Regions from separate parts of the Homo sapiens genome. Here all the other regions are linked to region 3. Evidence: fine-mapped expression QTL. A gene starts in region 3. Each other region holds a variant in brackets. All regions are shown on one strand. Distances are between the middles of the regions. Region 1 overlaps GIMAP8 (GTPase, IMAP family member 8). Region 2 has its middle 20 kb from the start of GIMAP6. Region 3 holds the start of GIMAP8 (GTPase, IMAP family member 8).

Region 1 (8,184 bases), 24 kb before region 3:
TTTATAATACCCTACTATTCGCCCCCACCTGCAATTTATTTATCTACAAATAGCTGATACATCACAAGGCGGGATGCATTTGCCTCTCAGGCCCTCAAAGCCATGAACCCGCTTCCCTTCCCACAGGTTGTACCATGCCCCGCCCCTCCCCCCAACCTGAGGGTGTCTCTAATTGAAGAGACCCCAGGCACTTCGGCTACCTATTGTAAAATACCTATTAAATTTTTAAGGAGTTTTTCGGCTTGGGACATTTCCTGGACATTTTTAATTAGTTTGCTGACGTTCTCCTGTGTATGGGGATACCCGGACCACCCACTTTCTTTTCTCAGATCATTGACCTTTGTTAAAAGAGCTTTCACCTGGGTTTCCTGGGCCTGGCCTGTTTCTTTGTTGTTAAAAGCACAAACTCGCCGCCCACACTTTTTAAAAATGCGCCGAAGGGCTTTGTTATCTGAGTTCTTCATGAAGTCTTCCAAATTCCCCGCCCCTAGGTCTTCCTTCCGGGTGAACAGCATAATCGCGTATTTCGTAAAGTCTGCTCCAAAGATGGCCTCCAGTTTCGCCACAGCTGTTTTGTCCTCTTCAGTGAATCGTCCCAGCTGGAACACCAGGACAAAAAATGTGTCCCCTTTTTCACAGCAGGACAAACAGCGCTTGACCTCCTCTTCTAACCGGGATGGGTCCTTTTCGACATCCAGCATCTGGTTGAAGGAAGGAGTGTCCACAACCACCACCTCCTGTCCGTCCCATGTCCTCCTGCCACTCTGGCTGGTCTTGGTGACTGGCTGGGCCCGGAGCCGAGAGGTGAAGACGAGGCTCCCCAGGATAGAGTTCCCGGTCGCACTCTTCCCAGTCCCGCTTCTCCCCACAAGGACAATGTTCAGGGTTTCTGTCAAAGGAAAGTGGGAAAGATTCGTGACCATGGGCTGATCTGAAATTGGATTTTAAAGTTATCCCATGAAGCAAGATTACATCACTAAAGTAAACAGCATGTTCAAACAGCATCAAGACCTCCTTCTCACCCAAGCAGGGGGATCTCCAAACACGGGAATGACTTGGCCCAGTTCACTCAGTCTGTGGACTCATGGCAGGACTTGGACTACATACAGTCTCCGTCCAGGGTTCATCCACCAATGTGGCACTGTTCCTATCACTGAATCGGCTCTGCTCCCTTTTTGCAGCACCTTCCAGACAGACTCCCTGGCACCTGTGAGTGTCCCCTGGCCTTCTTACTCTCTGCTCCCCTCAGCTGGGTTCCGTCTACACATCTCATCCCTTTGTCTTCTGTTCCTGTTACAACTACATCTTCTCACTCCCAACTACTGCTAACTATAGCAACATCTCCTTACAGTATTTAAAGAATTATTCTGTAAAATTGACTTTCATGAAAAAGAAACTCTACATATCACTGATAGATTACCAGTTTCCTTAGTTAGGACATGTAAAAATTCATTTCTCATTAAAACCACATTGAACTTAATTGCCTTTCACTGATGAGTCAGAAGAAACCGCATGGTTATAATAATGAATATCCACTAACACTGTTGGGTGTGTGGTGTCCATGATGGAGAAAGAGAATGAATTTCCCTATAAATGGAATTTACAGACACATAGAGACCTTACAATATGCGTTCTTTGGAGATCGTTCTTATGCTTTTGCACTTGCACTGTGACAGTCCAGTGCTCATTCAAGTCTCTTCGTAGTTCTCTTCCATTATGAATTTCATATCAAATAGCTAATATCTACTTCAATGCAAAGGAGGAAGAAAGCACATCCCATGCTCTTCCTTCAAGGGGAAATTATTAACCTGTTTATGCTGAAACTTCAACTTCATAGTTATGCCCAGCAGATGAACAATAGCTTAATCTTCCAACACTCCCATATTTGTCATATATTTCAGTCCCTACTTCTGTACCTACAGAGGGTGTGTTTCTCATGTACCTCTGAAATCCGGCCCCACTCCCCATCCCATATTCTCTAATTCAGTGTTCTTAATGTTCAACGCCTTAATCTTCAATGTTCTTGGAAGATGTCCTTTAGAGCTGTGAACCCCCATCTCCACCAAGATTATTCTTTTTTGTCCCCTAACAAGTGACATGCTTAGTCCTACCTCTTTGCTTCAAATTGCTGGTGTACTCTCTGGAATATCTTCCAGCTTTCTGCTCAGCCATTTAATCCCTACCCATTCTCTAAAACCTGTTTCAAATTGGGCTTTCTACACAAAGCCTCTCCTGACTTTCCCATGTATCTATACTTCTAAAGGAGGGTTCAATAAGAAAATATGCTCCTTTGGGTTTTATCTTCTTCCTGGGTGAGGATGTTTGAAGCAGAAAAAAAAACGGGATGAGTAAGAATGGGAAGGACCTCAGCATAGGTCAACTGAACGTGTAGCACTAAGTGGATGAGGAGCCCTTCTTAAGTAGTAAAGAGAGCAGTGTGCCAAGCTCTGGGCAACAGTACACTGTGGGGAAACAAAGGGTTGGAAAGCATCAGCTCCTTTCTTCAAGACACTCACACTATCCAGTTGAAGAGATAGTAAAGATCATGAAAAAATTAAAGACCGGTTCAAGAGAATGTGCATGGAAAAGCTATAACTTCAGTACAATTTGAGAAGCAAAGAAAGAGAAAAGAGTTAGTCCATAGAACAGACCTATCCTTCCTTTATTTTTCTTCCAGTTTCAACTTCTTTTTTGTTTCATTTCAACTTTTATTTTAGGTACAGGTACATATACACCATAGAATAATAGGCAGCCATAAAAAAGAATGAAATCCTGTCTTTTGCAGTAACATAGATAGAGCTGGAGGCTGCCATCCTAAGCAGACTAACACAGGAACAGGAGACCTGTCCTTTTTATCTTCTCTATGCCTTTTAGAAAATGTGGCACATATACACCATGGAATACTATGCAGCCATAAAAAATGATGAGTTCATGTCCTTTGAAGGGACATGGATGAAATTGGAAATCATCATTCTCAGTAAACTATCGCAAGAACAAAAAACCAAACACCGCATATTCTCACTCATAGGTGGGAATTGAACAATAAGATCACATGGACACAGGAAGGGGAATATCACACTCTGGGGACTGTTGTGGGGTGGGGGGAGTGGGGAGGGATAGCATTGGGAGATATACCTAATGCTAGATGACGAGTTAGTGGGTGCAGCGCACCAGCATGGCACATGTATACATATGTAACTAACCTGCACAATGTGCACATGTACCCTAAAACTTAAAGTATAATAAAAAAAAAGAAAAAAAAGAAAATAAAAAGTTCTTATATATTTTATACCTATTTTTAAATGATATATGTAAAAATATATATCCTATTCACAGTTTTACCTTTTTCTCTGAAAACACAATGCTTGTTCCCATTCTGATGCACCATGCTCTCAATTTTTTCCAGGAGCTCGTCCGCCTGCCTTTGCTCTTCTTCTCCTGTTGCCCGGTAGTTGAAGGCACTATATCTGTTTTTACACTTCTGGATGAGACCATAGAGAGCTTTATTGCTGTTTCTTAAGAACGTATCTAGATCCTGATCCCCTAAATCTTCTTTCCTGGTAAGAAGTATGATCATGTACTCAAAGAATTTTTCTCCAAAATTGTTTTGGATGGTGCTCAGCACTGCCTCATCATTCTTAGTGTAAAAGCCCAGTGGTGTCACCAGCAGGAAGGCATGGGGGCCTGTACAGATGTGTTTTCTAACTTCTGAGTCAATGTTCTTTAAAGATGAGATGTCCGGAGCATCAATGATCGAAACTTTCTTTTTTCTCCAGCTTCTGCTCTCAGACAAGAAGCTCTGGGTTACTGACTGCTCACTAAATCCGGTCTGAAAGGCCTGCCTCCCCAGAATGCTGTTTCCTGCTGCACTTTTTCCAGCACCGCGTTTCCCCACAAGGAGGACTGTCAGTTCTGATGTCCCCGGATTCTGCTCGGGTCCTGTGGACTGCAGCTGCCTTTCCCTTGGGCCTGTGGGACAAATGGACAGGTTCAGAGTCTCTTCCTGCAGTTGAATATGGATGTGGGCAGGTTTTATGATTTCTCATCCCTGCAAACTTGTATAGAGAATGGCAACAACACGGTAAACCAGTAGAACTCTACTCTCAGCCAGAAGCTCTCCATCAAGGTGAAAGCCACAAACAGGGGCAGGAGTGAACTAAGAGATATTCATGGAGCTTATGATTCCCCAGGAACACGAACATGCCAACTTTGGCCTTCGTTGGTCTAGGTCCTCAGGGTTCCCCTCATTTTGTTATCAAAGGTAAGTACTGGGGCCTACCAAAGGTAAGTAC[G/T]TACCAAAGGTAAGCCCAGGGGCTAAGGCAGGAGCAGGGAGAATCCGATTTTCAAATGCCCCTTGGTGGTATAAAATCAAATACACTCAGCAATTAAAAAAAAAGTGAACTAGCGATATGCAGTATAGATGGATCTCAAAAAAACACGCTAAGTAAAAGAAGCAGGACACAAAAACTGCATACTAGATGATTCTACCATATGAAGTTGAAGAACAGACCAAATTAATCTATGTTGATAGAAATCTGGATAGTGTTTCTCTTTGGCGAGGGGCAGCAAGAATCTGTAAGATGATGGAAATGCTCTATATCTTTATCTAGATGGGGATCCCATATGTATAGATATAGAAAAAGGCATCAAGCTGTTTGCTTAAGATTTGTGCATTTTACTCTGTGTAAATCGTACCTCAATAAATTGCTGTAAAAACCTGCAAACCTGCACCCTACAACTATCTCTCCACACATCCCCTGGCTGAGGCAGCATCAACACCAGACCTATGAACTGAGCAAAAGGGAGAGTCTGCAACTGCAGGGAGCTTTCTCTGAGGCTGAGTCATCAACAGCCTTCGTGGGAAGGGTCTGAGCAGCAAGTTGGGAAGGTGGGATGGACACAGCATCAAAGGCCCTTGCTGTATTGCCTTGGAAAACTTACCGCTTTGCGAATCTGTTTCCATGTTGGTAGAATGGGAATCTAATGCCCACGTTGAGGTTGAAAAGACTAAAGGAAACAGCACCTGTAAAGCCCTTAGGACCTGACTAGCACGGAAGTGTGCATGGAAGGCTTCACAGTTAAGGAAGAACTTGAGTCAGGCCTGGAAGTGCCCCTCCCTCCCTCACACTCCCCCCTACTCTCCTTTACAGACTTCAGGACTTTTGCCCATATGACAGCACTTTCTTTGCCTCCTGCCCTATCTCCTGCTGGCTACTCAGGTTCCTATGCAAATATAACTTCTTCAAGAGAACTTCACCTAAATTGCTCACCGCAAAACTATACAAATCAGCTGCCATGTGTATTTCCTCTATTCTTACCAAAATAATAATTTTATATTTATTTCGAATATGGACTCTCTTCAATTTAGAGAGACCATACAGTGCAGTGGTTAAAAGTAGGAGTGAGAAGGGATAATAAATAGCCCTTGAGAGCCAGGAGCTGGTCTGGCCTCCACAGCAAGGCCATGGCACCCTCCTGTCTCTCATCCACAGTATTACAGAAAATCAGACACGAGTCTTCCACAACCACAACCACTCTGCAATCGTATCTGAGCACACAAAAACAACAGCATTGCCCGAACATCCCCTGCACTGGCTAAATAGATGACAGCTGCCTCCTGATGGCTTTAGCCTCGTTCCACCCTTGTCACCTTGGACAGAAGAATTATTCAAACACTTCATTGTGGAACTACCCCCCACTTCCTAAGCGCATCCATCCTGGAGCAAAGTCCCACTTCCTGGAACCTTCCTCAGAATCACCTAACATGAGCCCACATCCTATAAAAAGTCCTTCCCTGCCCCCTGTTTCTGACAGCCCTGTGACTCCCCATGGTGTGCTGGGCCCTCACAGCCACAGGTCAATAAACGCACTTTTGTTCAGTCACACGTGTGTTCCTGGGGTCTCGGCCAAAGGGCATTGCCAGAATTTTGAAACCCTTCTGCCTGAGTACACGTATTTCTGGCTGAGTGCACTCAGCTGTGAAATGAGGATGAGGCTCACAACATCTTCTTTACAAGATTGTTACAAGAATTGAACTGGTGTATTTTAAGAGGATTATATATGAATATGCTATGAAGATTGAATTACATATTTATGAAAGTTATTTCCCAGGACATAATGTCAGCTGCAATTTTTTTTTTTTTTGAGACAGGGTCTTGCTCTGTTGCCCAGACTGGGGTAAAGTGGCATGATCTCAGCTCACTGCAATCTTGCGCTCCCAGATTCAAGTGATTCTCATGTCTTAGCCTCCCGAGTAGCTGAGACGACAGGCACGCACTACCATGCCTGGCTAATTTTTGTATTTTTAGTAGAGACAGGGTTTTGCCATGTTGGCCAAGCTGGTCTTGAACTCCTGGCATCAAGTGATCCACCCACCTCGGCCTCCCAAAGTGCTGGGATTACAGGCATGAGCCACTGCACCCGGCCTCAGCTATAATTATTAGCAATACTATTAAAATTATGATTTTATTATTTGGAAGATTTCCATGAGGAAAAGGATCTTGTCTATCTTATTCACGACTGGATACTCAGAGCTTGCACAGGGCTGACCCAGAAATAACCTGCAAATCCATCAGTAAAGGCATGGTTGCATTTGTTTTGTGTGTCCACATTGTGAAACAAACTGCATCTACTATACGGAAGGAGGTAGATCTATACATATTGACTTATGCAGATGTGCAGGATCTATCATTACTGGCAATCATCACCTGAATACTGCACCCCATCAGAGAATTCTCCAAGTTGGTGTTGTCCATGAAGGAGTGATTTCTGCTTTCCTAAGAGGAGTCAAAACTTGGGCAGGGCCGGATCCAAGGCCAGAAAGAAGAGTCTGAGTTAGGAAAGAAGACACAAGAGGCAAGCCCAGCTCTGTAACACTTCAGAAAAGTCCAAGGACACCCTCGCTGGGTCCAGGAACTTTGCTGGTGCTATACCTACTCACAAGTGTTAGGAGTTTCCTAGGGGATAGCTTGTGGGAACCAACCTCAGCTAGGTCCCCAGGGTGAATTTTCTGGTTTATATGGATAATGTTTCCGCTTCACTTTGGCTGCAGAATGCATTCAAAAGAATACAAGTGTGAGCTTAATGTTTCTTAAAGATCAACTTACCCTGTGGCTTGTCTCCCTCTTGAGATGCAGCTTCATTCACACAATCCTAGAAAATAAAGGAACAAAATAGTGCACACAGATCTAAAACCTCATCTTCCACAAACTGAAAAAAAAAAAAAAAAAAAAAAGGAAATTGAAGTATTAATTCAGAATGATCTGCTGAGTCAGATGTGGTCAAATCAAGGCCCTGGTCATGGTCTTTGTTGGTCTTTGTGGACCTGTCCACAATGGCAGTGGATCCTTAGATCCCCTGATGCTGCTAGGACTGGTTCTCGGAGAAGGTGATGTTTCCAACGTCTCCTTCCCTCACTGCTCCCAGTATGGAAAGGAAGCTTATTCTAACCTGAGGTTAATTGTCCAATATAATTTGGAATCCCGTTCCCCACCCCCCCAAGTCTGGCAAATGGAGACAACAGGATAGAGAACCAAACACCTAACTGACATCCCCTTCTCCTGCCTGGGGAATCCTGATACTTAGTTCCAAAATATTTATTGTTGTGGAATCAAGAAAGGAGGTGAAAAAACAGTATGCAATCTTGATGAACCTGCTAGTCTTAGAAACTTCCTAGACTTCATTTTAACCTTATCTTTGTTAAATCTTCATGCCAGCCAAGGAAATCTTCCCTCTGCTTTCTTGCCTGGCTTTGCCCAATATCATTGACACCCTCAACCATCCCTCTCCCTGCATCCTCTCCATTTAGCTGTCATTATCAGATTTCTTTAACCTTACATAGCCCAGTTCAAATTATTTAGTGTTCTCTAAATTCAAAAGATTGTTATGAGGTAAATGTCCATAATATAAAAATTAATGATCTTTGCATTCCCACTCCACCAGAAAAGTAACAGTTGTTAACTGGTATATATACTTCTATCTTTTTCTATGTTCATACAAATACATACAAGCATACATGAACATATGGAGACTTATTATTTGTTCTACAATCTGCTTAATAATGCATTCTGTACATCTGTAGAAGTCAATATAGACAGAACTACATCATTCTTTAAGTAGATAGAATTTATTCCATAGTACGGACATGCGTAACTGATGCAACCATCTTTTCATTGATCAATCTTC
Region 2 (8,184 bases), 160 kb before region 3:
GTATGCTTTATGATTTCACACAACAATGAAACCACTTAATAATGCATTTCTCAGAAGGTATCCCTGTTAAGGGATACATGACTGTATTTTCACTGTCAGAGGAAAACTGCCTACTCAAGCCTCAGTAATGGCGGACGCCCCTCCCCCCAGCAAGTTCCATCATCCCAGGTCAACTTCAGATTGCTGGGCTGGCAGTGAGAATTTCAAGCCAGTGGCTTTTAGCCTGCTGTTCTCCAAGGGATTGGGACCTGCTGAGCGAGACCACTTGGCTCCCTGGCTTCAGCCCTCTCTAAAGGGGAGTGAACCATTCTGTCTCACTGGGGTTCCAGGTGCCACTGGGGTGTGAAAAAACACTCCTGCAGCTAGCTCTGTGTCTGCCCAAATAGTCACCCAGTTTTGTGCTGGAAACCCAGGGCCCTGGTGGTGTAGGCACACGAGGGAATCTCCTGGTCTGTGGATTGCAAAAACCATGGGAAATGTGTAGTTCTATCTGGGCCAAATAGCACAGTCCCTCACAACTTCCCTTGGCTGTGGGAGGGAGGCCCCTGGCTGCTTGGACGTCCTAGGTGAGGTGACGCTCACCCTCCATGGTGTTGGGAAAAGCTGAGTGTTGGGAGAAGCTGAGGCAGGGCTTACATGTCTGACACAATGTAAAAGAGTCTTGGAACCTGTCCAGGGTCCGGGGTCTAAAACCTCTCTTGGCCTTTGGAACACCAAGCTCTGTGCTAAAGGGTGGAAGCCTACCCTGATGCACCATAATGTAAGCGCAGGACATAAAACCCCTCATGGCCTCTGGAATGTGTCTAGACTTGCTGGCTCCTTGCTCCTTGCTCTGCCAGGATCGATTGTATCTTGAGTTAAAAGAACCTTCTCTCCATTATCTCAAGTAGCAGAGCATATGCTAAACTGTCATAGCTGTAAATCATGTGCTTAATGCAATGTTCCCTTTCAACCCCACATTCTCACCACCTGTTTCTTTGTTTGATCACCAATAAATAGTCTGGGCTTCCAGAGCTCAGGGCCTTCACAGCCTCCATTACTCACATTGGCGCCCTGGGCCCACTTTCTCTCTCAAACTGTCTTTACTCATTCCTTTGACTCCACCAGATTTTGTCACCCCCACCACCTGGTGTTGGGTCCAATCACCCCAACATTCCTGGCTGCCCAACTTGGGGTGACAAATACCCCAGTGAAGGAATGCTAGAGCATGTGAAAGTGGAGGATGCATCGTCAAAGGACACCTGAGGACCACTGAAAGAAGCTCGTCAGGAAAGCTGAGCACTTGGAAGAAACAGGGTAACAATGGGACAAAGTGAAAGCAAACATTCTGCTTACTTGAATTTCTTAAGGCACTTATTATGAAGAGGGTGAGACATGGGGTAAGACCCAGTGGAATCTGAGGCTTGTTTATTCAGAAGGCCCCATTTAGAGAAAAAGAAGACAAAGTGAGGACTTAGAAGGAGCCTGGGAAAGTAAAGTCATCTTGAAGCTTCAGTTTCACAGTTAACCTGCTTCTGCTGGAGAAAAACAGATTTAATGAGCACAGAGGCATGATATGGGACTGAATGTAAAGAAATTTGGACTCAAGGCCCCAAGGAATATTTGTTTGAGTTGTGGAATATGCTTGATTTTGGTATGTTAGTGATTTTCACAGCATTGTTCATTGCAAGATTCAGGGCGTTCTGGCATGCTTCCAAAGCCCAAAGCATCATTGATGCAAATGATACTTTGAAGGACTTGACAGAAGTAACACTGGGAGATAATGTGAAATACTACAATTTGGCCAGGAGGGAGTGGGTCCCCTCTGATCCTTGGGTGGTGTCTGAAGGTCTTTGTGCAGTTGCTGTGGTTTTGAGTTTCTCTGGGATAGCTTGTATTTTGCCAGCAAATGAAAGCTTTGGACCTCTGCAGACGTCACTTGGAGGAGCAGTCAAAGACATCTTCAGGTTCATGGTCATATTCATTATGGTGTTTGTGGCCTTTATGATTGGAATGTTCAACCTCTACTCCTACTACATTGGTGCAAAACAAAATGAAGCCTTCACAACGTTGAAGAGAGTTTTAAGACAATGTTCTGGGCTATATTTGGACTTTCTGAAGTGAAATCAGTGATCATCAACTATAACCACAAATTCATTGAAAACATTGGTTATGTTCTTTATGGAGTCTGTAATGTTACAATGGTCATTGTTTTGCTAAATATGTTAATTGCCATGATCAACAATTCGTTCCAGGAAATTGAGGATGATGCTGATGTGGGTCATAAAAAAGGTTTCCAGGAAGATGTAGAGATAAGTAAGTAGAGATAGACATAAATAGAGATATACATAAATAGAGATAGAGATAAATAGAGACAGAGATAGACATAACTAGAGATAGAGATAGAGGTAAATAGAGATAGAGATAAGTAAGTAGAGATAGAGATAAGTAGAGATAGGTAGGAAAATACAGGGACTTGCAGGAACTCACAGGAAATAACAGGTACCATAGGGACAGACAGGGACAGATACGGATAGATGAAGACCAGCAATATAAGGTCAGTACCCTAAAGAGGTATTGGTCAGTGCCCTAAAGAGGTACTGGTCAGTGAGGTACAAAAGCAAAGACTAGCAATATAAGGTTAGTGCCTTAAAGAGGTACTGGTCAGTGCCCTAAAGAGGTACAAAGGTAGAGACTAGCAAAGACAAGCAGAGATTTGCAGGGACAGACAAGAACATTCTGAATTATGGAAATTAGCTATGGCTCAAAGTCCAATCAAAATCTGAGAGGGCAAATATAAAAGGAATAGAGGGGAAGGAGGTAAGGATGAAAATGCTCTTTCTTTTCTCTCCAGCAGGACCTTTTGGATTCAAAGTCGTGCTAGCAATAGGAAATGTTACTCTTGATATAATACACACTTTATTACATGCCCTGATTGTTGCTTGTTTACCTGCATTAATTCAACCTTTGATGAAAATATAACTATCTTGATAATTAAAGCCAGGGAAGGAGTTTGATCCCTCTGTCTCTAAATAGACTATGGGAAACATCACCAAGTATTTATATTGTAACTGAGATCCTTAAAAAACTCTTATCCCGTTCCAAAAGATTTATAGTTGAAGGCCATTGGAGGCTCTACATTGTGGGTTTCTTTCTGGTTGTTGTGTGCTTGTGCTGTCTCCTTTTAGTCTGCAGATGCAGAAGCTGCCTCTGAAGAGGAAACCGCCTCTGAAGAGAAAGCTGCCATCAAGAACAAGCAATGATAGCTGTGGTGGTTTTATGAAAAAGAAAAGGGGGGTATGTTGGGAAAAGCTGAGTGTTGGGAAAAACTGAGGCAGGGCTTGCATGTCTGACATAATGTAAAAAAGTCTTGGAACCTGTCCAGGGTCCGGGGTCTGAAACCTCTCTTGGCCTTTGGAACACCAAGCTCTGTGCTAAAGGGTGGAAGGCTACCCTGATGCACCATAATCTAAGCCCAGGGGATAAAACCCCTCATGGCTTGGATAGAATCCAGGGCTCAGGGCATAAAACCCCTCATGGCCTCTGGAATGTGTCTAGATGCTGGCTCCTTGCTTCTTGCTCTCCCAGGATCGATTGTATCTTGAGTTAGAAGAACCTTCTCTCCATTATCTCAAGTAGCAGAGCATATGCTAAACCATCACAGCTGTAAATCATGTGCTTAATGCAATACTCCCTTTCAACCCCACATTCTCACCACCTGTTTCTTTGTTTGATCACCAATAAATAGTCTGGGCTTCCAGAGCTTGGGACCTTCGCAGCCTCCATACTCACGTTGGACCCCTGGGCCCACTTTCTCTCTCAAACGTCTTTTCTCATTCCTTTGACTCTGCCAGACTTCGTCACCCCCATGACCTGGTGTTGGGTCCAATCACCCCAACACATGAGCTGCTCCCACTTCCTAGATGAATAGGATACCTCAGTTGGAAATGCAGAAATCACTGGTCTTCTGCATTGGTCTTGCTGGGAGCTGCAGACCAGAGCTGTTCCTATTCGGCCATCTTGTCAGATCTCCCTGGAGGTCTTTATCTTAAGTGAAATAAGCCAAGCACAAGAAGAACAATATCACATGTGGGAGTTAAAATATCATATGTGGGAGTTGAAATATCATATGTGGGAGTTGAAAGATTCGATCACATGGAAGTAGAAAAGAGTGAAAAGATAGCAGAGACT[G/C]AGAAAGTAGAGGGTGGATGAAGAGAATTGTGTTAAAGGGGACAAACATAAAATTAGATAGAAGTAATAAGTTCAGTGTTTGATGGCAGAGTAGGGTGACTATAGTTAAACAAAAATATACTGTATTTGTGTGATGGACACCCTAAATACCCTTCACTGTGCATTATGTACATGTAACAAAAATTCACATGTTCCCTATAAATTTGTACAAATAAAAAACTGTGAAAGAAGATTCTGCTTATAGTGATAAAGATGTTTCTATGTTAACAAATTAGAAATTATTGCCTCCAATTTAAAGGATCTTAAGAAACAAATATAAATCTTTCATCAGACAAGTCCCACCTTCTCCATTAATGTTTTTTATTATACTTTAAGTTTTAGGGTACATGTGCACAACGTGCAGGTTTGTTACATATGTATACATGTGTCACGTTGGTGTGCTGCACCCATTAACTCGTCATTTAGCATTAGGTATATCTCCTAATGCTATCCCTCCCCTCTCCCCCCACCCCACAACAGGCCCCAGTGTGTGATGTTCCCCTTCCTGTGTCCATGTGTTCTCATTGTTCAATTCCCATCTATGAGTGAGAACATGCGGTGTTTGGTTTTTTGTCCTTGTGATAGTTTGCTGAGAATGATGGTTTCCAGTTTCATCCATGTCCCTACAAAGGGCATGAACTCATCATTTTTTATGGCTGCATAGTATTCCATGGAGTATATGTGCCACATTTTCTTAATCAGTCTATCATTGTTGGACATTTGAGTTGGTTCCAAAGTCTTTGCTATTGTGAATAGTGCCACAATAAACATATGTGTGCATGTGTCTTTATAGCAGCATGATGTCTTTATAGCAGCAGGATTATCCAATATCCCTGATGAACATCGATGCAAAAATCCTCAATAAAATACTGGCAAACCGAATCCAGCAGCACATCAAAAAGCTTATCCACCATGATCAAGTGGGCTTCATCCCTGGGATGCAAGGCTGGTTCAACATACACAAATCATAAAATGTAATCCAGCATATAAACAGAACCAACGACCTAAACCACATGATTACCTCAATAGATGCAGAAAAGGCCTTTGATAAAATTCAAAAACCCTTCTTGCTAAAAACTCTCAATAAATTAAGTATTGATGGGACATATCTCAAAATAATAAGAGCTATCTATGACAAACCCACAGCCAATATCATACTGAATGGGCATTGATTTCTTTAGTGGATTAAATTTGACTCCTGGGAATCTTTGCTCAGAGGAATTTTTCAATTCTTGGCTATTATTCTCCTTATAGTTATTGTGTTTACCTCCTGGTGCATTACATTCTATCAAGGGTTTTTATTCTTTCCAGTGGCCACTCACATGTCAAAAGATTGCCCTTAGGATCAGCCAACTCAAGGAAACGAATATGGACCAAGTAATTGTTCACAGTAGCTTTGTAACTCTGAACCCCAGCATAACGATTAATGATGACAACAACATCTTCCTGACTTTTCTTTCCAAGGACTACATCAACATTGGTAACTGAGAGTAATGCTATGCCATTTGGTCACACTGTCAGCTTGCTGAAGAAATAACTAAAAAGGGAAAATTCTTAAAGCACAATTAAAATGGAGACCGGGCCTAAACATTGCTGAGCAAACAAAACCAATGGAAAATTAAAAATAGCCTTAACATTGCTTAAACTGCAAACAGAAGCAAAATTTTAACTTGGGTCATTTCTGGTAAATGCTTATGTTGAACAGAAATGAAACTTAGTCTCAGCCAATCATAAGCAGCTGACTAATATATGTTCATGAGTTTAGGGATTTCCAACAACATAAACCAAAAAAGATGATATTATAGCTGCAAACAATCAAATACTGTATTTATTTTGCATCCACATTCATCCTACAAATCTTTGCCTCTGATTCTTTGTCATTGAAACACTAACCCTCTTTTGGTTTTGTGTTTCCCAATTCATGAATTGCTTGTTACTCAAATAAACACTATATATCTGATTGTGCCTCAGTTTACCATTTTAAATAATCTATCTGACCTCTTTGTGGAAACATTTCCTTCTCAAAAAAGATACCTAATTGGTGCCAGGTATACCCAGGACAAAGTAGTTTAGATCTTGTATTTTAACTACTTGCTGTCTGTCTCCTACAGTTGTGGCTGATGAAGAACACTTCCTTGTTCATCATTGGATTCCAACGTCCTGGAGTGCGTTAAGCACTCACTAAATGCTTCTCACCCATTTAGTAGCTGATTTTGATTTTGTATCCTGAGACTTTGCTGAAGTTGCCTATCAGCTTAAGGAGATTTTGGGCTGAGACGATGGGGTTTTCTAGATATACAATCATGTCATCTGCAAACAGGGACAATTTGACTTCCTCTTTTCCTAATTGAATACCCTTTATTTTCTTCTCCTGCCTGATTGCCCTGGCCAGAACTTCCAACATTATGTTGAATAGGAGTGGTGAGAGAGGGCATCCCTGTCTTGTGCCAGTTTTCAAAGGGAATGCTTCCAGTTTGCCCACTCAGTATGATGTTGGCTGTGGGTTTGTCATAGATAGCTCTTATTATTTTGAGATACATCCTATCAATACCTAATTTATTGAGAGTTTTTAGGATGAAGCATTGTTGAATTTTGTCAAAGGCCTTTTCTGCATCTATTGAGATAATCATGTGGTTTTTGTCTTTGGTTCTGTTTATATGCTGGATTATGTTTATAGATTTTCATATGCTGAACCAGCCTTGCATCCCAGGGATGAAGCCCAATTGATCATGGTGGATAAGCTTTTTGATGTGCTGCTGGATTCGGTTTGCCAGTATTTTATTGAGGATTTTTGCATCAATGTTCATCAAGGATATTGGCCTAAAATTCCCTTTTTTTGTTGTGTCTCTGCCAGGCTTTGGTATCAGGATGATGCTGGCCTCATAAAATGAGTTAGGGAGGATTCCCTCTTTTTCTATTGATTGGAATAGTTTCAGAAGGAATGGTACCAGCTCCTTCTTTTACCTCTGGTAGAATTCCGCTGTGAATCCATCCGGTCCTGGACTTTTTTTGGTTGGTAAATTATTAATTATTGCCTCAATTTCAGAGCCTGTTATTGGTCTATTGAGAGATTCAACTTCTTCCTGGTTTAGTCTTGGGAGGGTGTATGTGTCGAGGAATTTATCCATTTCTTCTAGATTTTCTAGTTTATTTGCGTAGAGGTGTTTATAGTATTCTCTGATGGTAGTTTGTATTTCTGTGGGATCGGTGGTGATATCCCCTTTATCATTTTTTATTGCATCTATTTGATTCTTCTCTCTTTTCTTCTTTATTAGTCTTGCTAGCGGTCTATCAATTTTCTTGATCTTTTCAAAAAACCAGCTCCTGGATTCCTTGATTTTGCTGAAAGGTTTTTTGTGTCTCTATTTCCTTCATTTCTGCCCTGATCTTAGTTATTTCTTGCCTTCTGCTAGCTTTTGAATGTGTTTGCTCTTGCTTCTCTAGTTCTTTTAATTGTGGTGTTAAGGTGTCAATTTTAGATCTTTCCTGCTTTCTCTTGTGGGCATTTAGTGCTATAAATTTCCCTCTACACAGTGCTTTGAATGTGTCCCAGAGATTCTGGTATATTGTGTCTTTGTTCTCATTGGTTTCAAAGAACAACTTTATTTCTGCCCTCATTTCGTTATTTACCCAGTAGTCATTCAGGAGCAGGTTGTTCAGTTTCCATGTATTTGAGCAGTTTTGAGTGAGATTCTTAATCCTGAGTTCTAGTTTGATTGTACTGTGGTCTGAGAGACAGTTTGTTATAATTTCTGTTCTTTTACATTTGCTGAGGAGGGCTTTACTTCCAACTATGTGGTCAATTTTGGAATAGGTGTGGTGTGGTGCTGAAAAGAATGTATATTCTGTTGATTTGGGATGGAGAGTTCTGTAGATGTCTATTAGGTCCACTTGGTGCAGAACTGAGTTCAATTCCTGGATATCCTTGTTAACTTTCTGTCTCATTGATCTGTCTAGTGTTGACAGTGGGGTGTT
Region 3 (8,184 bases):
GAACTGGTCATCAGCTCCTCTTTGGACTTTTGCAGTAATATTAACACTGCTCCCCGGTTTCCACCCTTCTCCAGCTGTCTATTGTCCACCAATAGCCACAGTTCTCCTCTCCTGTTAAAACAAGAGACAGGTAATGTCACGCTTCATTCTAAACCTCCCCCCACCCCCAGTGACTCTCCACCCATTCAAAGTAAAAGGCAAAGCCTTTATAGTGGTCACGAGACCCTACCTTGTGCCCAGCTGCTCTCTGACCTCATCTCCCACCCCCTTCCCCTCACATTGTGTGCCATAGTCACATCAGCCTGCGCTGTACTTCAAACATGCTTGCTGTTCATCTGAACTGGGGCATTGTCCCTTGCAGACATGTGCAAGACATGTGCCTGAGCACTTCCCTTAGGTCTCTATCACACTGTCCCCTTAGTACAGGAGGCCCTCTCCAGCCTCCACCCGCTATTAAAGAGCTGTCCATGCCTCTGTGCCCCACTGACACCCCCACCCCATACCTAGCACCCGCCACTGCCACCCTAAGAGCTGTCCACCCCTCTATGCCCCACGGGCACCCCCGCCCCATACCCAGCACCCACCACTGCCACCCTAAGAGTCGTGACTCCTCTGTGCCCCCCGCCCCGTACCCAACACCCACTACTGTCACCCTTCACATCTGCATTTAGTTGCTTAGTGCTTTTTAGTCTGCCACCACTACAGGTGAGTTCCATGAGAATAAGGACTTGCTCTGTTTTTCTCACCACTGTATCTACAACATAAAGAAAGTATCTGATAAATACTTGTTTCTGAGTTGATGGTTATTGACTTGAAGAACAAGCAAAATGCAGCAGATACGCCGAAGAAAGTGAAGAGTGGGAAAGCCCTTTTTCTGTGCAGCAATTTGGTGGTTCATACCTTTTCAAAAAATGGGGTCTGTGGCACTCAGGGGAGAGGCTGCACTGCAGGGAATGACCCAGGGAGGTAGTAAAGGCAGTGGCAGGGCCCACTTTCGAAAAGGGCGAGGCAAAGCCCACAAGGGCCTTGGCAGAGGCCTCTCTCTGGAATCATCTGGATGGCTGCACGGCACGGGGCAGAGCCCACCGCAGCTTCAGACACCTCAGAACCTCAGAACCGGTCCACCAGGGGAAAAATATTTCCGGTGGGTTCAAACCTAATCAGCACCGGGGATCTTCTAAGAGCATCTTTCACCCAGATACACCCTATGGAGAGAAGCTCTCACACTAATGCCCTATCTCCTCTCTCTCCTCAATTTTCTTCATAACATTGATTCTATCTGATATTATTTATATTTTATAATTATTTATTAATTTTATTTTTAAATGTCTAAATGTTCTCTGTACTACCCTTGGTACAAAGCTCCATAACAGCATGTGCTGAAACTCCAAACATGCCTGTTTTGTTCTGTGTCCCCAGGCCCTAACATTGTGCCTGGCATGTAGTATATGCCCAATACGTGGAGGTAAAGGAATGAACGATCACAGGAGAGACAGAAATGTGAAGAAAAGAAGAAAAACGGTTTTTAGAACTGAGAGGGAGGCCGGGCGCAGTGGCTCACGCCTGTAACCCCAACACTTTCAGAGGCCAAGGCAGGTAGATCCCTCGAGATCAGGAGTTTGAGACCAGCCTGGTCAACATGATGAAATCCCCGTCTTTATTAAAAGTACAAAAATTAGCCAGGCATGGTGGTGGGTGCCTGTAGTTCCACTCGCATGTATATATATATATATATATATATATATATATATATCTCACACACACACACACACACATATACACACATATATATACATATATACACATATATACATATATACATACATATATACATATATATACATATATACATACACACACACATATATATGCAAGTGAAGTGAGATGTCTCTGTAAATTAATTTAAGAAAAAAAGACACTAGTGAGAAAACAGCAAGCTGAAGGAAGCAGAGGCCTCCCACAGGTCTGAAGAAGAAAGAAATTTCTTTCCCAATTAAGCGACACAGCCTTGCATGGTTCCCCAGCAGAGTATGACCAAACCAATGAGTCTTGGCTGGACTCCTGCCTGCAGCTCCACATGATGTCAGGACCTACACACACACACCCACATACACACACGCACATGCACACTCCTACCACACATACAGCTTCCCAGCCAGTAGCACTTCACCCCAACATGTAGAAAGTGCACTTAAGGACAAAAAGGTACCCAAACTCACCCTCACTCACGCTCTGCCAGCCCACATTTCCCTCTGCTCAATTTCCCAGGCCACTCTGGAGACCCCAGCAGAGCAACTGAGAGAAAAAGAGAGCGTTCTTCCTATAATTCACTGAAGACTGTAAAGGCAGCCTCTGCCTCCTTCTCAGGAAACAGCCCAAGGCAAACGTGGACTCAGGCATCTGAGCACAGCATCCAGCCATGCGGGGATTCATCCCACATCTAATCGCAGTTCCCACTTACAGAGCAGGGTGGTTGGAGATGCCTCCAGAGCCCAGCGTGGGGAAGACCTTAGACCCAGCCCAGCAGGGCAACCATCAAGAGGAAGGGAAGAGGTTAACTGCTGAGGACCAGGTTGGCTGAAATGTAGGTGAAATCAGAAATATTGCTTTTGGTAAGGTCTTGACCCCTCCAATCCCTCCAATGCCCAGTTCACAGAATCCTAACTGTGCAAGGGGCAGGAAAGATCAGAAAAGCAGACGTGGAAAAATCAGCATCCCCCACCCCCTGCTTTGCGGGAGGAGCTCCGCTGGCTTCCTCCTGGGGGCTGCTCTGCGGCACCATCTAGCTTCATGGGGCATCTGACCGGCTGCTTCCGCCTGCTTCTTCCTCCCTTCTGCCAGTCTCAGCCCTCCTCCTCTTCAGGGCTCACACCCACTCCCCGACACGCCTTCTTTTAGGACAGCCACTCTCATAGATGTCTGGGAATATGCCTCTGTCCCCATCCTGCCGAATCTACTCCCCAGCAGGCTGGGGAGACACGCTTTGGACCAGGAGGAAAGCTTCCCAGGGCCCCTGCCATTCAACTCTGCCATTCAACCCTGCCATTCAACCCAGCCTCCTCTCCCATGGCTGAGCAGGCTGCCTTCCCGGTGCCAAGCCCATCCTCCCCCACAGCCATGCACCAGTGCACACACATCTACACACGAGTGCACATGTCACACATGCACTGCGGTCGTGTCCCATGGGGTCCCACGGCGTCCCACAGTCTCCGAGGCTCCGCAATCCACCTGGCTCTATCCCTCCATCTCTCACCTGGGTGGAAGCAGCTGCTGGTCCCCCAGGGCACAGGATGTGAGGAAGGTGAGGAGGGTGAGGGGAGAATGGCCGGAGAGCGACCCTCTTCCCAGGCCCTGGTCTTCCTGGCAGGAGGGTTTCGGGTGTTTCTGCAAAGGAAGAGATTTCTAGAAATAGCCTTCACATCCACAGAGGCATAAATGCAGTCGGAGAGGAAGTTCCCTGTGCAGGCCACAGGCTCAGAACCTCGAGAGCCGTCGGGGCTCAGGGAGGAGCCAGCATCGGGGACACACGCGCCTTCCCTGGGTGCTGAGCGCCTCGTGGGGTCACAACACAGCAGAAACTGAGGAGCCCGGCCCGTCCCGCAGCTGCAGACTGAGAGGAGGGAGGAGAAATGACAGCAGAGGCTTGGCCAGGGGCTGGGGCGCCGGGGCCGGTGCCAGGCTGAGCTTCAGAAGGGCTGCAAGAACAGGGGCTTGGATAGGGCAGGAAAAGGACGTCAAGCCAGTTCCTGTTCCTGAGAGGACAGAGATTGTGGCGCCGCTACAAGCTCTGAGCAAAGCCAGCTCCGGGCCTCTGTGTGCCCTTAAGTGGCCTTTAGGACTTCCTCTCACAAGTCCTTCCTCGCTTCCCTTCCCTTCCCTAAAACCCACAACCCGGGGAACTCCAAGCCTGACAGACCAACGCTGCTTCTCAGGGAATGAATGCTTTTCCCCAGCTTGCAAAACGTGAAATGCTAGACTTCGATGCTTTCAAATATTTCACAAAATGAAATCCCTTTTGTGAAAGAACATAGTGTCCAAACTACCTGGTCTCTACTTCATAAGGAAGTCAAACACGGAGGAAGACTTCTTAAAAAATGTTTACTAGGGTAAAAATGATGTAACATTAATAGTACCATCCTAACCATTTCTAAGTGTATAGCCCACAGTAGAAAGTACATTCACATGGTTGTGTGCCAGATCTGCAGGACTTTTCATCCTGCAGCACCCAAACTCTCCCCATTACACCCCAACTCACCTCCCCGAACCCCAGCCCGGGTAACCACCGTTCTACTTTCCGTTTCTATGATTTTTTTTTTTTTTTTGAGACAGAGTCTTGCTCTGTCGCCCAGGCTGGAGTGCAATGGTGTGATCTCGGCTCACTGCAACCTCCACCTCCCGAGTTCAAGCAATTCTCCTGCCCCAGCCTCCCGAGTAGCTGGGATTACAGGTTCCCGCCACCACACACGGCTAATATTTGTATTTTTAGTAGAAACGGGGTTTCACCATGTTGGCCAGGCTGGTCTTGAACTCCTGACCTCAAGTGATCCACCTGCCTCAGCCTCCCAAAGCGCTGGGATTACAGGTGTGAGCCACCACACCCGGCCTGTTTCTATGATTTTTGGCAACGTCAGATACTCATGTGAGTGGAGTCCCACAGTGTCTGCCCTCCTGAGACTGAGCAGAATGCCCTAGAGGTTCATCCAAGTGAGTGCGGGACCCTCTGCGCTCTGCACAGCAGGGCCCTCTTCACAGGATGCAGAGGCTAGGGCCTCGAGGGACTGGAGCTCAAGTTAGTTTTCCAAATGTCTGAGGTGGTGCTAAGCTTTCCAAAGGGACCCCGCAGAAGGAGGAGCAGTGGGGGTGGCTGAAGTAGAGGGGCATGCTTCAGATATGAAGTCTCTACAGTAGTCAAAACCACAGGCTTTGGGGAGCTGCTGTCAGCCTATCACATCCCGAGGGATCCACCCTCCCCCTGGACTGGTCTTCATGCGCCAGCCTTGAGGACTGCTCTACCTTGTTATGAACCTGAGGGAAACCCTGGTTATGCTGGGATGGCTCAAGAAGAGCTTTGGGGACACACAGGACACATCTTGATGGGGAAAGCTGACAAAGCCCTTCCCATGTCCCACTCTACCTGTCTCCTCATTGAAAGAGGATCTATTTTGGAAGAACCCCACCCTTCCTTTACAGTAGGTCAACGCACATAAAACCAACTCATTATAATGAAAAGACAAAAACCCGAAGCCAGGTACTGCAGTTCATCCCCGCTGGGGTACTAACAGAGGCAGAGGCTCAGCAAGAAACTGTTTCCCCAAAATAGAGAAGAAAAGGCTCACTCATTCTTAAATGAAATATTAAGCATCCAGGGATTGCTCTAAGTAAAACTGAAGCTGCAAATAACTCCTCAAAGATTCAGCAAGTCGATTATTTGCTGAGTTGACCATTTTGCAAAATGATCTTTCAGCAAATCAGCTCCTAGAGAATTGATTTCCGTGCAGAAGGCAGGCTGCCGGGTTCTGGTTTGGCACCGATCTGAGGCAGGATGGGGGCTCCCTGCCCCCTAGTGGCTTTGTGGCTAATGACAAGTGCAGCAAAATGCTCCCCAGCGGGCCGAGAGCCCTGACTCAGCAGGCAGGTGAAACACTGGGGAGAAGTTCTAGACTTCCAGAAATCGAATAAGCCAGGAAGACACATGTTATGCAAGCAAGGAGAAATCTACCAGGACCAAGCACCGTATTAGACACAGAGGGCACAAAGATTAGCAAGGCAAATACCTGACTCAAAGGGGCCCTAACTCAGTCTGAGGATGGGGAAGAGACTACGCTGTGGTCACGAAACGAGGTAATGTGCTGTGATAGAGATGCGTCCAGGCTGCCACGCAAGTGAGGAGGAGACGATGTAAACCCCGCAAGATGGAAAAACAACCAATTGGGGAAATAAACTTATAAACAAATCCGTAAACCCGCCATTTCCTGTGGCAGGTACTGACGGAGTGGTAGAGACGGAGTTTCACTATGTCCTGCCATGGAGAAGATTGTAAGGCACAGTGAAGGGAAGGCCGCGCGGGAAAGGTAATGCCTAAGTCTTGAAGGGCTGTAACATTTGCCTGTCAGATGACGGAGGGAGGACGCCTCAGGCAGACGGAGAATGGCAAACGCCACCGGCATCGGGGCCCTAAGACAGCCCAGCAGGTGCGAGAAAACGCAGTCAGGCTGGAGACAGAAGGACCGGTCAGAGGCTGCTGCAGCACCCAAGCTAGAAATGAGGAGAACTAACGCAGAGACAGCAGCAAGGGGAACAGATTTATTACAAATAGAAACAATAAGGCCGGGCCTGGTGGCTCATGCCTGTAATCCCAGCACTTCCTGGGAGGCCGAGGCCGGCGGCTCAACTGAGGTCAGGAATTCGAGACCACCCTGACCAACATGGTCAAACCCCGTCTCTACTAAAAATACAAAAAAATTAGCTGGGTGTGGTGGCACGTGCCTATAATCCCAGCTACTCAGGAGGCTGAGGCATGAGAATTGCTTGAACCCGGGAGGCGGAGGCTGCAGTGAGCCAAGATAGCGCCACTGCACTCCAGCCGGGGCAACACGAGTGAGACTGTCGCGGAAAAGAAAAGAAACAATAAAAGAATTTCTTAAAAAGATGAATTCACAGTTGTTAACACGATTGACCCAGTTGCCACATCAAAGGGAGTGCTATTCACTGCAGACATCTTTGTTATTTTGGAAAACATTATTATACGTTATTTCATTTCAAAGATGGAAAATGTGTGTGTTTACTACAGCTTTGGTAGATGGTAGTAAAGTGTCTTGTGACTAAATTTGTATATTTTGACAAGTTTTTGATGGAATTAAGTATCTTGTTCAAATGGAGTCCATGTCTGTTATAGTAATTCAGAAATAATATACTTATTTTAAAACGTTTAGCTTCTCCTGTAATTCCAGCTCTTTGGGAGGCCGAGTCGGGTGGATCATTTGAGGTCAGGAGTTCAAGAGCAGCCTGGCCAACATAGTGAAACTCCATCTCTACTAAAAATACAAAAATTAGCCAGGCATGGTGGCATGCACCTGTAATTCCAACTACTCGGGAGACAGCTTTTTCTGATTCTCATAAAGGGCAGTGGTCACCCAGGCTGCCTGGATGTGGAGCAGCCTGGCATCACAGTACTTTCTAGTGGCCTTTATGGAGAGAGGGCTGAGAGGCTGGTGTTTTGCTAGAGATGAGCACGTCGGCATGGGGATGCTGGGCTTGAGGCTTCTAGAGACAGAGCAGGCAGGGGCATCCAAAGGTCTTGATTGATTCCTGTGTCCCAAGGATTCTTCATGCCAATCCTCTCACTGAAAACGACTAAAAATAAAGAGGATAAAAATATTTCTAAATCTTCTCGACACCATCCAAGGGCCAATGAGATGATAAAGAATGACTTTCTTCCAGCCTGCACTCTTGCTGGAGCGCAGGCACCCTGTGCCCAGCTGCAGCCCTCAACCCCACTCTGGACCTACATTCAACACAGCTCCCCTGGGCTTTGCTTACAGGTTTCCTTTTGCTTTTCTTGTTTGTTTTGGGTTTGGTGGGGGTGGGGGTGCTGCTATTGCTGCTGCTGCTGGTGGTGGTTTATTGCCAAGTAAGACAAAGTGCCCTCTTTTTATTGCAGTGGTGACTTTTCTTCACCTTCTTAGCTGGCAGCAAAGGCCTAAAAGAGTCATGTTGCTTCTGGAAGATTCTAGAGAGATACAGGCAGTCATAAGAGGCCCACAGACAATAATCAGGAGTGGAAATAGAAAGTTCTTAAACTCTGAGTGATTGATAGTGGTAGCAAACAGCTTTGTGAAGGTAAAAACTATGAGTCAATGGTAGTTAAAAGCTGGCAAGAGACCTGATTTTGAAATGAAAAAATCCACCAAAAGAGAAGGATCACCCAAACAGAGAGGGAGGGGCAATTCCTGTAAAATTCCACAGCAACTTCATATGATCCCAGGGTTTTCCCAGCACCTCACTACTCATTCTTCTTCCTGGGATTTCCCCAAATTCTCCATATTTTTTCACCTATAAAAAGTGAGGGTCGGGTGCGGTGGCTCACCCCTGTAATCCCAGCACTTTGGGAAGCCAAGGCAGGTGGATCACTTGATGTCAGTAGTTCAAGACCAGCCTGGTCAACATGGTGAAACCCCGTCTCTA

What was found.
Region 1: its variant is fine-mapped to the expression of GIMAP8 in unexposed skin (GTEx, PIP 0.98).
Region 2: its variant is fine-mapped to the expression of GIMAP8 in whole blood (TOPMed, PIP above 0.99). The same link has a PIP of 0.9 or more in monocytes.

What each region holds. Positions count from the first base shown.
Region 1 is chr7:150,469,797-150,477,980 of GRCh38, reverse strand. It overlaps GIMAP8 (GTPase, IMAP family member 8), which reads right to left. Exons shown (of 5, transcript NM_175571.4): 3 at 7,107-7,152; 4 at 3,343-3,969; 5 at 1-889. The coding sequence ends at 201. Among named protein-coding and RNA genes, the nearest start is that of GIMAP8, 23 kb to the right of the region's middle. RefSeq lists an enhancer at 1-1,086. The variant G/T (reference allele first, on the strand shown) is at 4,293.
Region 2 is chr7:150,608,144-150,616,327 of GRCh38, reverse strand. It overlaps the pseudogene TRPC6P3. Among named protein-coding and RNA genes, the nearest start is that of GIMAP6, 20 kb to the left of the region's middle. The variant G/C (reference allele first, on the strand shown) is at 4,171.
Region 3 is chr7:150,446,245-150,454,428 of GRCh38, reverse strand. GIMAP8 (GTPase, IMAP family member 8) reads right to left here and starts at 3,799. Exons shown (of 5, transcript NM_175571.4): 1 at 3,254-3,799. It overlaps LINC00996 (long intergenic non-protein coding RNA 996), which reads right to left. Exons shown (of 4, transcript NR_034033.1): 3 at 7,540-7,729; 4 at 6,289-7,353.